Regions from separate parts of the Homo sapiens genome. Here region 2 is linked to region 1. The links come from fine-mapping of genetic effects on gene expression. A gene starts in region 1. The other region holds a variant in brackets. All regions are shown on one strand. Distances are from middle to middle.

Evidence for each region. PIP is the estimated chance that this variant, and not a neighbour inherited with it, causes the effect.
Region 2: its variant is the best candidate, but not a certain one, in a credible set for the expression of PVR in tibial artery (GTEx, PIP 0.73).

The regions. Positions count from the first base shown.
Region 1 is chr19:44,640,700-44,646,074 of GRCh38, reverse strand. PVR (PVR cell adhesion molecule) reads right to left here and starts at 2,165. Exons shown (of 8, transcript NM_006505.5): 1 at 1,900-2,165. The coding sequence starts at 1,978. RefSeq lists a silencer at 2,134-2,213.
Region 2 is chr19:44,694,384-44,699,758 of GRCh38, reverse strand. CEACAM16 (CEA cell adhesion molecule 16, tectorial membrane component) reads right to left here and starts at 608. Exons shown (of 7, transcript NM_001039213.4): 1 at 499-608. CEACAM16-AS1 (CEACAM16, CEACAM19 and PVR antisense RNA 1) reads left to right here. Exons shown (of 2, transcript NR_186815.1): 2 at 582-721. RefSeq lists an enhancer at 2,436-3,041. The variant G/C (reference allele first, on the strand shown) is at 2,913.

The sequences.
Region 1 (5,375 bases):
AGGCAAGCACTACTGTTAACATCATTTTACAGACAGGGAAACTGACACAGAGTATAGTGTCCTCCAAGTCATACAGAGGTTTAGTGGCAGAGGTGGGATTTGAACTTGGGCGGTCAGAGACTGACCTCTAATCCCCCAGGTCCTATATAAAAATCTTTCTGCTAAGGGCCCTAGCACATAGTAGGTCCTCAAAATGTGACAGCGCTTATTGACACTAATAAACATGGTCCTATGCATTCTTTTTTATTTTTAAATTTTTATTTAGTTAATTATTTTTGTAGAGATGGGGTCTTGCCATATTGCCCAGGCTGGTTTTGAATTCCTAAGCTCAAGTGATCCTCCCACCACAGCCTCCCAAAGTGTTGGGATTACAGGCATGAGCCACTGTGCTTGGCTGCAACCAGCCTGGGCAGCATAGCGAAACCCTGTCTCTACCAAAAATACAAAAAAAATTAGCCAGGTGAGCACCTATAATCCCAGCTACTCCAGAAGCCACAGTGAGAGGATCGCTTGAGCCTGGGAAGTCGAGTTTGCAATGAGCCGGGATTGTACCACTGCACTCCAGCCTGGGCAACAAAGCAAGACCTTGTCTCTCTCATACACACACACACATACACGCACACACGCACTATATATATATATATATATATATATATATACACAAAACATATAAATAAATAATAAAATATGTTATCTATTTACTCTTTAAATGTATAATAAAATATATATTATTTATTATATAAATAATATATGTTATAAATATATAATATATTTAATATATATTTATTAAGAAATATATTATTATATATTATCAATTATATAATACATAATACATATTATATATTATAATAATATATATAATATATAATATACATATTATATATTATAATAATATATATAATATATAATATACATATTATATATTATAATAATATATATAATATATTATAATATATTATATATTACTATAATATATATTATATATTTTATTATATATTATATATTACTATAATATATATTATATATTTTATTATATATTATATATTACTATAATATATATTATATATTTTTATTATATATTACTATAATATGTAATATATAATAATAATATATAATATATATATTTATCAGGAGTTTGAGACCAGCCTGGCCAACATGGTGAAATCCTGTATCTACTAAAAATACAAAAATATTAGCCAGGCATAGTGGCACATGTCTGTAATCCGAGCTACTCGGGAGGCTGAAGCAGGAGAATCGCTTGAACTCGGGAGGAGGAGGCTGCAGTGAGCCGAGAGCAGGACACTGCACTCCAGCCTGGGTGATGGAGTGAGACTGTCTCAAAAAAAAAAAAAAAAGAATGAAAGAATGAATGAATGGCCAGGCCCCTGGAGTCAGACATTGGGGGTCAGAGGGGTAATGGTGTCAAGTGTCACCCACTGTCCTCCTCCCCAACATCAACCATCCCCTCCGTCCAGACCCAGCCTGCCAGCACGCTGCTGGGTTATGGCCTGGGTATGCTGAGCAGGAACCTGGGTAAGGTAATCCGGCATGCGTCACCATCTGCTGATTTTCCGGGATTCACTTGCCTTTTTGGGAAATTTCCTCACCCAACTCCATCCCCTTTCCGAGGGGCCCAGAGGAGGGTCTTGTGCCCGACCCGTGTTGCTGCCAATTTCGAGGAATTTCTGTACCCAACTCCGACCGCTCTCCGGGTGGCCAAGAGGAGGGTCCTGCCCTCGCACCCTCGCACCGTGTTCCTTCCAACCCCGGGGCAGAGATGGGGGGTGGGTGGCGCCGGGCGGGGCCGTCATCTTCGGGAACCCAAGGGGGCGAGTACCCGGCCTGGATGCGGAGCTGGGAGCCAGACAGGGGCCACCGGACTGCGCGGGGGTCACTCACCGGTTCCTGGGGGTGGCCAGGACAGCACCAGTAGCGCCACCAGCAGCAGCGGCCACGCGGCGGCCATGGCTCGGGCCATGCCAGTTGCTCCGAGCAGCTGGGCCTCCCGCGGGCGTCTCCTCGCTTCCCGGCGCCCGCTCGCTCTGCCGCGGTCGCTGCGAGTCCAGCTCCCGGAGCTCAGGTCCTGGAATCCCCGGGGGGCCGCTCCTCCAGTGCCTGGGGTGGGAAGGGGAATACCCACTTCTTCAAGCTCCAGACAAGTGACTGGAGCGGAGGGGAGTTGGCGGCCAGTCCCGCCAGGCGCGGGGTGGGCCACCCAGGCTGGCCCTCCCCGCGCGCCTGCGCCTGCGCAGGTCTCTCCCGGCGCTCAGTCCCGCTGCAGACGCGCGCTCGCTCCGTCGGTGCCCACTAGAAGAGGCGGCTTCCTGTGTGAGGTCGCCCACATTCCAGGTGAGGAAACGGAGGCACACGGAGAGATTCAGCAACTTACTAACGGCTCGCGGTTGCCGAGTGGCAGAGCTGAGGTTCCAACTCGTGATGGGACAGATCCTGAGCCCACCAGGCTGTCCTTCCACGCAGCCTAAACTTCCCATGGGCTTTGGGGTCAGACAAGACCAGGGCTCATGTTGGGCAAGTGGTTTCTCCTCGAGGGCCCTCAGATTCTTTATCTGAAAAATGGGCATAGTAGGGCGCGGTGGCTCAGGCCTGAATTCCAGCATTTTGGGAGGCTGAGGCAGGAGGACTGTGTGAACCCAGGAGTTAGAGGCTTCAGTGAGCTACCATTGCGCCACTACACTACAGCTTGGGTGGCAGAGCCAGACCTGTCTCAAAAAAAAAAAAAAAAGTTTGGGGGCTGGGGGAGCAAGCGCAGTGGCTGACGCCTGTAATCCCAGCACTTTGGGAGGCCGAGGCAGGAGGATCACCAGAGGTCCAGGAGTTCAAGACCAGCCTGGCCAACATGGCAAAAACCCATCTTTACTAAAAATACAAAAATTAGCCGGCATGGTGGCACATGCCTGTAATCCCAGCTACTGGGGAGGCTAAGACAGGAAAATCACTTGTACCCGGGAGGCAGAGGTTGCAGTGAGCCAAGATCGGGCCTCTGCACTCCAGCCTGGGCGACAGAGTGAGACTCTGTCTCAAAAAGAAAGAAAAAAGGGCATACTAACAGTACTTACCTCACAGCGTGGTCTGTAAAACTTAAACAAGAAACTGCCTAGCTCAATTTCGGGGATATAGTTTGTACTAAATAAAAAGCTGATATACCAACAATAGCAGCAGTGGCAGTGACAATTATTATTATTGTTGCTTTACAGTTGGCATCAAATAATAATGTTCATGAGAATGGTCATTCATTCATTCTTCATTCAGCATATATTTATTGATCCAGCCAGTATCCCAGGCACTGGGTATACAGCAGAAAATAAGACAGACAAAAATCTCTGCCTTTAATGAAGACCGTGTTCTAGTGGAGGGAAACAGACCATAAACAGATTAATACCAGAACTCCATCAGGTCTGGGGAAGATAAGGGTTATGGACCAGCCTGCAGTAGGGAGAGGGGAGGAGGGAGGGGGGAGAGAGAAAGAGAGAGAGAGAAAGAGAGAGAGAGAAAGAGAGAGAGAGAGAGAGAGAAATGAGAGAGAAACAGACACACTCAGAGATAAGGGCTGGGAGACAGAGACAGAGAGATTGAAAGAGATAGAGACACAGCATAGACAGAGGGAGATGAGAGAGAAATGAGAGGTGACAGAGAGACTCAGAGAGCCAAACCCTCAGAGACAGAAACTGAGAGACTTCCTGGTCCCCAGAGGTGGCTGTCCTGGCCAGGGTCTCCATGAGGCCGACTAACAGCTCTGGTCCCTGTGCTCTGACATCTTTATATGTTTTTTATTTTTATTATTATTTTTAGACAGGGTCTCACTATTTCACTGAGGCTGGAGTGAAGTGGCGCCATCATTGCTCATTGCAGCCTCCACCTCCTGGGCTCAACTCCTGCCTCAGCCTCCTGGGTAGTTGGGACCACAGGCATATGTGATCACACCCAGCTAGTTTTTAAATTTGTTGTAGAGATAGGATCTCGCTATGTTGCTCAGGCTGGCCTTGAATTCCTGGCCGCAAGCGATCCTCCCACCTCGGCCTCCCAAAGTGCTAGGATTGCAGGCATGAGCCACTGTGCCTGGCCCCACATTCCTGTATCTTTCTGTAAAATCCTTCCTTTGGCTTTTGGCTGGCTTGGAGGTTTCTGTCCCCGGGTGCCCTCTCTAACTTGGATCTGATGCTTGTGTATGACACATCTGATGCTTGGGGTCTCTCACCCTGGATGTATGTAGGTGAATTTCTAAATGGAAACAGGGAGGCTAGTCTCTTGGAAATCTCTGAATTTTCTGTCAGTGTTGTTTTGCTGAGTTATTTCCAAATTGGGAATCTGTGGCCATCGTTATGTTCCTCCTCTGGATGATGCTGTCACCATCTGGGATTCCCCCACTTCTCTGGGCTCCCAAGCTCCTGTGGCTCCAGGGACTCCTCTCAGGGCCCTGGAGGGTCAGAGGCTGCTCCGAAGAAGCAGGCTTAGAAGAAAAAGCAAGTTTGGTTCGGGGCATATCTGCTTGCTTCTGTGTGTTTCTCTGTCAAGAGTCTAAATTCCTTGAGTGTTTGGACCAGTTGTAGACATTTTCTTCACTCAAGTGCTGAAATATCATCTGATAAAATAGTGAATGGAGATCTCCAATGGGCATCTTATTTTTTGTGTGTGTTTGTTTGTTTTGAGACAGTCTTGCTCTGTCTCCCAAGCTGGAGTGCAATGGCGTGATCTCGGCTCACGGCAGCCTCCGCCTCCCAGGCTTAAGTGATTCTTGCGCCTCAGCCTCCCAAGTAGCTGGAATTACAGGCCTGCACCACCATACCCAGCTAATTTTTTTGTGTTTTTAGTAGAGATGGGGTTTCACCATGTTGGCCAGGCTGGTCTCGAACTCCTGAACTTAGGCGATCCACCCTCCTCAGCCTCCCAAAGTGCTGGGATTACAGGCGTGAGCCACCATGCCCAATGGGCATCCTCTTGATGCTGTGGTTTTCAAACTTCTGGATCCAAAAGGATCATCAGGAAGCTTGTGTAATTAAGCAAATATGAATCCATTTCCTTATTCTTCCCTCTCCCATTAAAAAATAAAATGGTAGCATTATTCTGTATCTTTCTGTTTTTCACTTAGCAACATATCTTGGTGATTTTCCCATAGGCAGATATATTGAGCTACCTCATTCATTCATTCACAAATGTGTACTATTCCATTACATGAATGCACCGTCATTTTTGAAACTGTCTTCAGGGGATGGGCTTTTTGGGTGTTTCCAGCCCTTTTGTACTTGCAAACTGTGCTTCCCTGGGTCATCATGTCCATGGCATTTCCCATGTATGTAACAGTATCTGTCATATTTATTCCCAGAAGCTGATTTGCTGGGCCAAAGGCCATGCACATT
Region 2 (5,375 bases), 54 kb before region 1:
TAAGCCAGAGCCTGGTGGACGTGGGTCTGATTGGTATGCCTGTTATTAAAAGTATAGGCTCTGGCCGGGCGTGGTGGCTCATGGCCGGACGCAGTGGCTCATGCCTGTAGTCCTAGCACTTTGGGAGGCCGAGGTGGGTGGATCAACTGAGGTCAGGAGTTCAAGACCAGCCTGGCCAGCATGGTGAAACCCTGTCTCTACTAAAAATACAAAAATTAGCTGGGTGTGGTCGCGGGCACCTGTAATCCCAGCTACTTGGGAGGCTGAAGCAGGAGAATTGCTTGAACCCTGGGCAAAAGAGTGAAACTCCATCTCAAAAAAAAAAAAGTATAGGCTCTGGACATAGTTCCACTGTTTCCTACCTCCAGGACCCTGGGCAATTTATGGACTCTGCCAAGCCTCAGTTTCCTTATTTGTAAAATAGGGAAAACAATAGTACTCACATCACAGGGCTGTTGAAAGGATTAAGTAGATACACATGTGAAGTACAGTACTTACCACGACTGGCGCAGAGTAAATGCTCAGTAAATCACTCATTCACTTATTGGACAAATACTGAATGAGCACCTATTGTTTGCCAGGTGCTGTTCTAGGCGCTGAGGATGCAGCCGTGCACAAGACGGATGAAATCCCTGCCCTCAGGGGGCCGACATTTGCGGAGTAAATAAAGGAAAGGTAAATATCTTCCACGTCAGATTGAAAAATAAAGTCAGAAAGGGGATTTGCCATTTTATTTTTTGTAGAGATGGGATCTCGCTATGTTGCTCTGCCTGGTCTCAAACTCTTGGCCTCAAGTGATCTTCCCACCTTGGCCTCCCAAAGTGCTGGGATTACAGCCATGAGCCACTGCCCCTGGCCTGGTTTGCTACTTTAAATTGGGGTGGAGGGAGGGTAACAGGGAAGGTGTCTCTGAGATGATGCTGGGCAGGAGCCGAGGGGGTTGTGGTGCCAGAGCTGCTGATAGCTGTGTTCTTATGACCTGCATCCTGATGGCTTCTGAGTCCTGGTTCCTCTGAGGCCTCTGCAGCCTGCTTCCGGGCAGGGGGCCACACCTGTGCTCACCTGTCCTGGTTTGCCTCCAGCACTGTGTCCTGGGCTGCCCTCGTGGGGCAGGGCTCTAACAAGGGGGAGAAGGCCCTGAGGAGGTGCGGGTGAGGCCAGGTGAGAGGCACAGAGGATGTCCTGGCGCCTCCTGCTCCCCTCTCCCCACCTGTGACCTCACCTCACTCTTCTGCGTCCTGGCCCAGAGCACTGGGACCTCATCCCAGTATCAATCAGGATGCCTCCCTGATGTCCCTGGGCACCTCTCACTCACCTTGTCCCAAACTGACCTTGGCATCTTCCCCCAGAAGTGTATCTTCCCCTGGTGCCCTTATCAGGGAAGGCGCCACTACCCACCTCATCGCTGGGAAAAGAGACCTGGGGCCTCATCCCTGATGCCTCCCCCTACTCCCCGAACACGCCACCCCTTCTGGCAACTGACTCTACGTATATCTTCTCTCCCTCCCTGAAGCCCCTGCCCTGGTCTAGGTGACCACTCCACCACCCCACCTTGCCTGGGTCCTCCTGTCTCCCCACCAGCCTCCTCCCTAGTCTCTGGCCCTGGTCTCCCCGACTCCCATTGCCCCTCCACATGGCAGACAGAGGCTCTTTCCAAAACAAAAACCTGCCTCTGCCCCTCCGTGCTCAGAACCTGCTGTGGCTCCCCAGTGCCCTTGGGAGGAAGCCCAGGTTCCTCACTGTAGCCCAGGAGGCCCTGCCCGGCCTGACTCCTGCCCACCTGACCAGCTACATAGAATACCACTTGCTTCCGGGAACCCTCTGCTTCAGTTCTTCTGTTTCACTTGCACTCTACCCAGAATATCCCTGCTTCCCTCTGCTCTATTCCACTGCCTTCCCCAAACCCTCTCCTCCAGGAAGCCCTCCTGGACTTCAGGGCCTGGAATTCCCTGTCTCAGCCCTGACTGCCTTGGGTTCTCGCTGTCTGGGGCTGGGTCTTTTTCCCCCACTGGCCTGGGAGCCTCAGCTGGGCACGGCTGGGCTGTCACCACTGTGTCCCCAGCACTGCCCAGCAAATCACCTGGCACAGAGCAGAGGCTCACAGCATGTTTGTGGAACTGGACACCAGGTGTGGATGACACAGAGAGAGGAGTCTTCAGAGAGGCTCAGGTTCCTGGTGATCTGCTGTCTGCCTGCGGAGTGTGACCAGGCCGGGCTCTAGAGGCCCTCTATCGTCACATCCACCCTTCCTAGTCTGCCCCCATCCTCCACCTCCCTGGCCCCTCCTCTGGTGCTCCCGGCTGTGAGCCCAGATCCTTGGTTCAGTCAAGAGCTGCAGGCTCTTTAGCACCTGCTGTGCGCCGCCGGGCTGCGCAGAAAGCAGACGGGGTTCTTGTGGGCAGGGGCTTTTTCCTGTTTGTGCAGTGGGTGGGGGGTGTTCATGACATTGACTTCCCTGGGACTCTTCTGAGGATCAAAATAGGCACATGGAGTGTTCCGTGCCGGGCCTGCCTCAGAGCACGTACTGGGGGCACAGTGGTCGTTGTTCCTCCACCATTTGACAAATGTTTATGGAGCACCAACTATGTGCCGGGCACTGCGCTAGGCGCTGTGGGGTTACAGCCGTGAATACGGTAGACACAGAGCTGACCTATTGATTGGGGAGACAGTTAATAGACGAATACAAACATGAGCAGTGTTAGAACAGGTGGGGACAATGCTGTGGAGAAAAATAAAGCAGGGGAAGGGATGGAGGTGGTCGGGGCACTGGTTTATGCAGGGCAGCAAGGCGACATTGTCAGAGCGACATTGGAGTAGAGGTTCAATAAGGGGGGCCGGGCGCGGTGGCTCACACCTGTAATCCCAGCATTTTGGGAGGCTGAGGCGGGAGGATGGCTTGAGCCCAGGAGTTC[G/C]AGACCAGCCTGGGCAGCGTAGAGCACGTCTCTACAAAAAAATTTAAAAATGAGCCAGGAGTGGTGTTGCACGCCTGTAGTCCCAGCTATTTGGCAGGCTGAGGTAGGAGGATCGCCTGAGCCCAGGAGGTTGAGTCTGCAGTGAGCTGTGATCTCACCACTGCACTCCAGCCTGGGCGACAGAGCAAGACCTTGTTGTCTCATTAAGAAAAAAAAAAAAAAAAAAGAGCGCATGCATACACAATAATGTAAAACAGATAATCAGTTTTTTATATTGATTCTGTGCTGAAATGACATTTTGCATATGTTGTGTTAAATACATTCGTTTCACCTTTCTTCATGAGATGAGGCTGGAAAAGGTTGAATTGTGTTTGCGGCTCCACTCTTGCTCCTGTTGGGTAGTGCTGGACCAGGCAGGAGGTAGTGGCGGCTGAACCAGGGATGGGAGAAGTGGTCAGCTTGTAGATGTATTCTGCTGATATCATTCTTCTTCTTCTTCTTCTTCTTCTTCTTTTTTAAATGGAGTCTTGATCTGTCATCCAGGCTGGAGTGCAGTGGTGCGATCTTGGCTCACTGCAACCTCCACCTCCCAAGTTCAAGCGATTCTCTCACCTCAGCCTCCCGAGTAGCTGGGATTACAAGCATGCGCCACCATGCCTGGCTAATTTTAATATTTTTAGTACAGACAGGGTTTTGACATGTTGGCCAGGCTGGTCTCAAACTCCTAACCTCAAGTGATCCACCTGCCTTGGCCTCTCAAAGTGCTGGGATTACAGGTGTGAGCCACCGTGCCTGGCCCATTATTCTTTTTGACAGCTTCAGCTTTTCCTGTTATCCATCTCCCCGCTGCCCACCCCCAAGAAAACCCATTTTGCAGACAAGTAAACTGAGGCCCCGGGCCATTGCCTCATAAGATTGGAGCAGATGAGTCTTATCTTCTCTGCACAGCCATCTGGGGACACGGGTCTATGACCTTGTTTGGTCAGGGTCACCCCTTGCCCGCCCAGCCCTCTTGTCTCACCAGTCACTTAGTTTCCTTGGGAGCGGGAGGGAGGCTGGGAACTCCTTTATCTGCTCTTCAAGACCCTGCCCACCACTGACATCATCAATATATATTAGATGTAAACGTCAGACTTGGGCCTCCGTGGCAGAATCCTTGTCCTGTCCTCTCTGGGCAGGGGTGGGGAGGCCTTGAGACTGAGGGTTTGGCTGGAGCTAATGTCTTAGGCTGAAGCAGGTTTCCAAACCCCTTTCAACCTCCCCTTATCTTGGGCGAGGCAGAGGGGGCCGTCATATTTGCTCAGGGTGTGGCTTCCTGTGCCGGCCTGTCAAGGCCTGGAGTTGGCTCTGGCTGGGCCTGGAGAGGTTGTTCTTGGGGAGAAAGGACCAAATGTCCCCTTAATTCCTGACCCTAGAAAGAACACCCAGGTGGCCAGGCGTGGTGGCTCACGCCTATAATCCCAGCACTTTGGGAGGCCGAGGCGGGTGGATCACCTGAGGTCGGGAGTTCGAGACCAGCCTGACCGACATGGAGAAACCCCACCTCTACTAAAAAAAATACAAAATTAGCCCGGTGTGGTGGTGGGCACCTGTAATCCCAGACACTTAGGAGGCTGAGGCAGGAGAATCACTTAAGCCCGGAAGTCAGAGGTTGCTGTGAGCCGAGATCACACCACTGCACTCCAGCCTGGGTGACAGAGTGAGACTCTGTCTCAGAAAAAAAAAGCACCTAGGCTTCCATGCAGGAGAGGAGGCAGGTGGATCGGAGAAGCTCCAGACCTTTCCATAGGCTGTTCCCTGTGCTTGGATACCCGTCCCCACCCTCCTCACCTCATTCATCTGGGTTTTTCCAAGCCATTCAATCATTTAACAAATATTTGTCAAGCATGGACTATGTACCAGGCTGTTTGCACAGAGACATCCTTTCCTTTGTTGGGCTAAATCCTATTGGAGGGAGATGGGCAATAATAATAATAAAAAAAACCTGATATGGCATTTAATGTCAGGCAGAGATAAAAGCTATAAAAAGTAAAATAGGTCAGGTGCAGGGGCTCACGCCTGTAATCCCAGCACTTTGGGAGGCCAAGGTGGGTGGATCGCTTAGGCCAGGCGTTTGAGACCAGCCTGGGCACCACAGTGAGATCCTATCTCTACAAAAAAGTACAATAATTAGCCAGGCGTGGTGGTGGTGTGCACCAGTAATTCCAGCTACTTGGGAGGCTAAGGTGGGAGAATTGCTTGAGCCTAAGAGGTGGAGATTGCAGTGAACTGAGATTGCACCACTGCATTCCAGCCTGGGCAACAGTGTGAGATTGTGTCTCAAAATAAATAAAATTAAATAAAATAGGGCAAGTGGATAGAGAGGAGCAGGGGTTGCTGTTTTAGTTTGGGAGGTGGTGGTGGTGGCGCTTTTTCTGGCCTGAAGGAGGCGACAGAGGAGGGAGCCTGTGGGTGTGTGGGAGG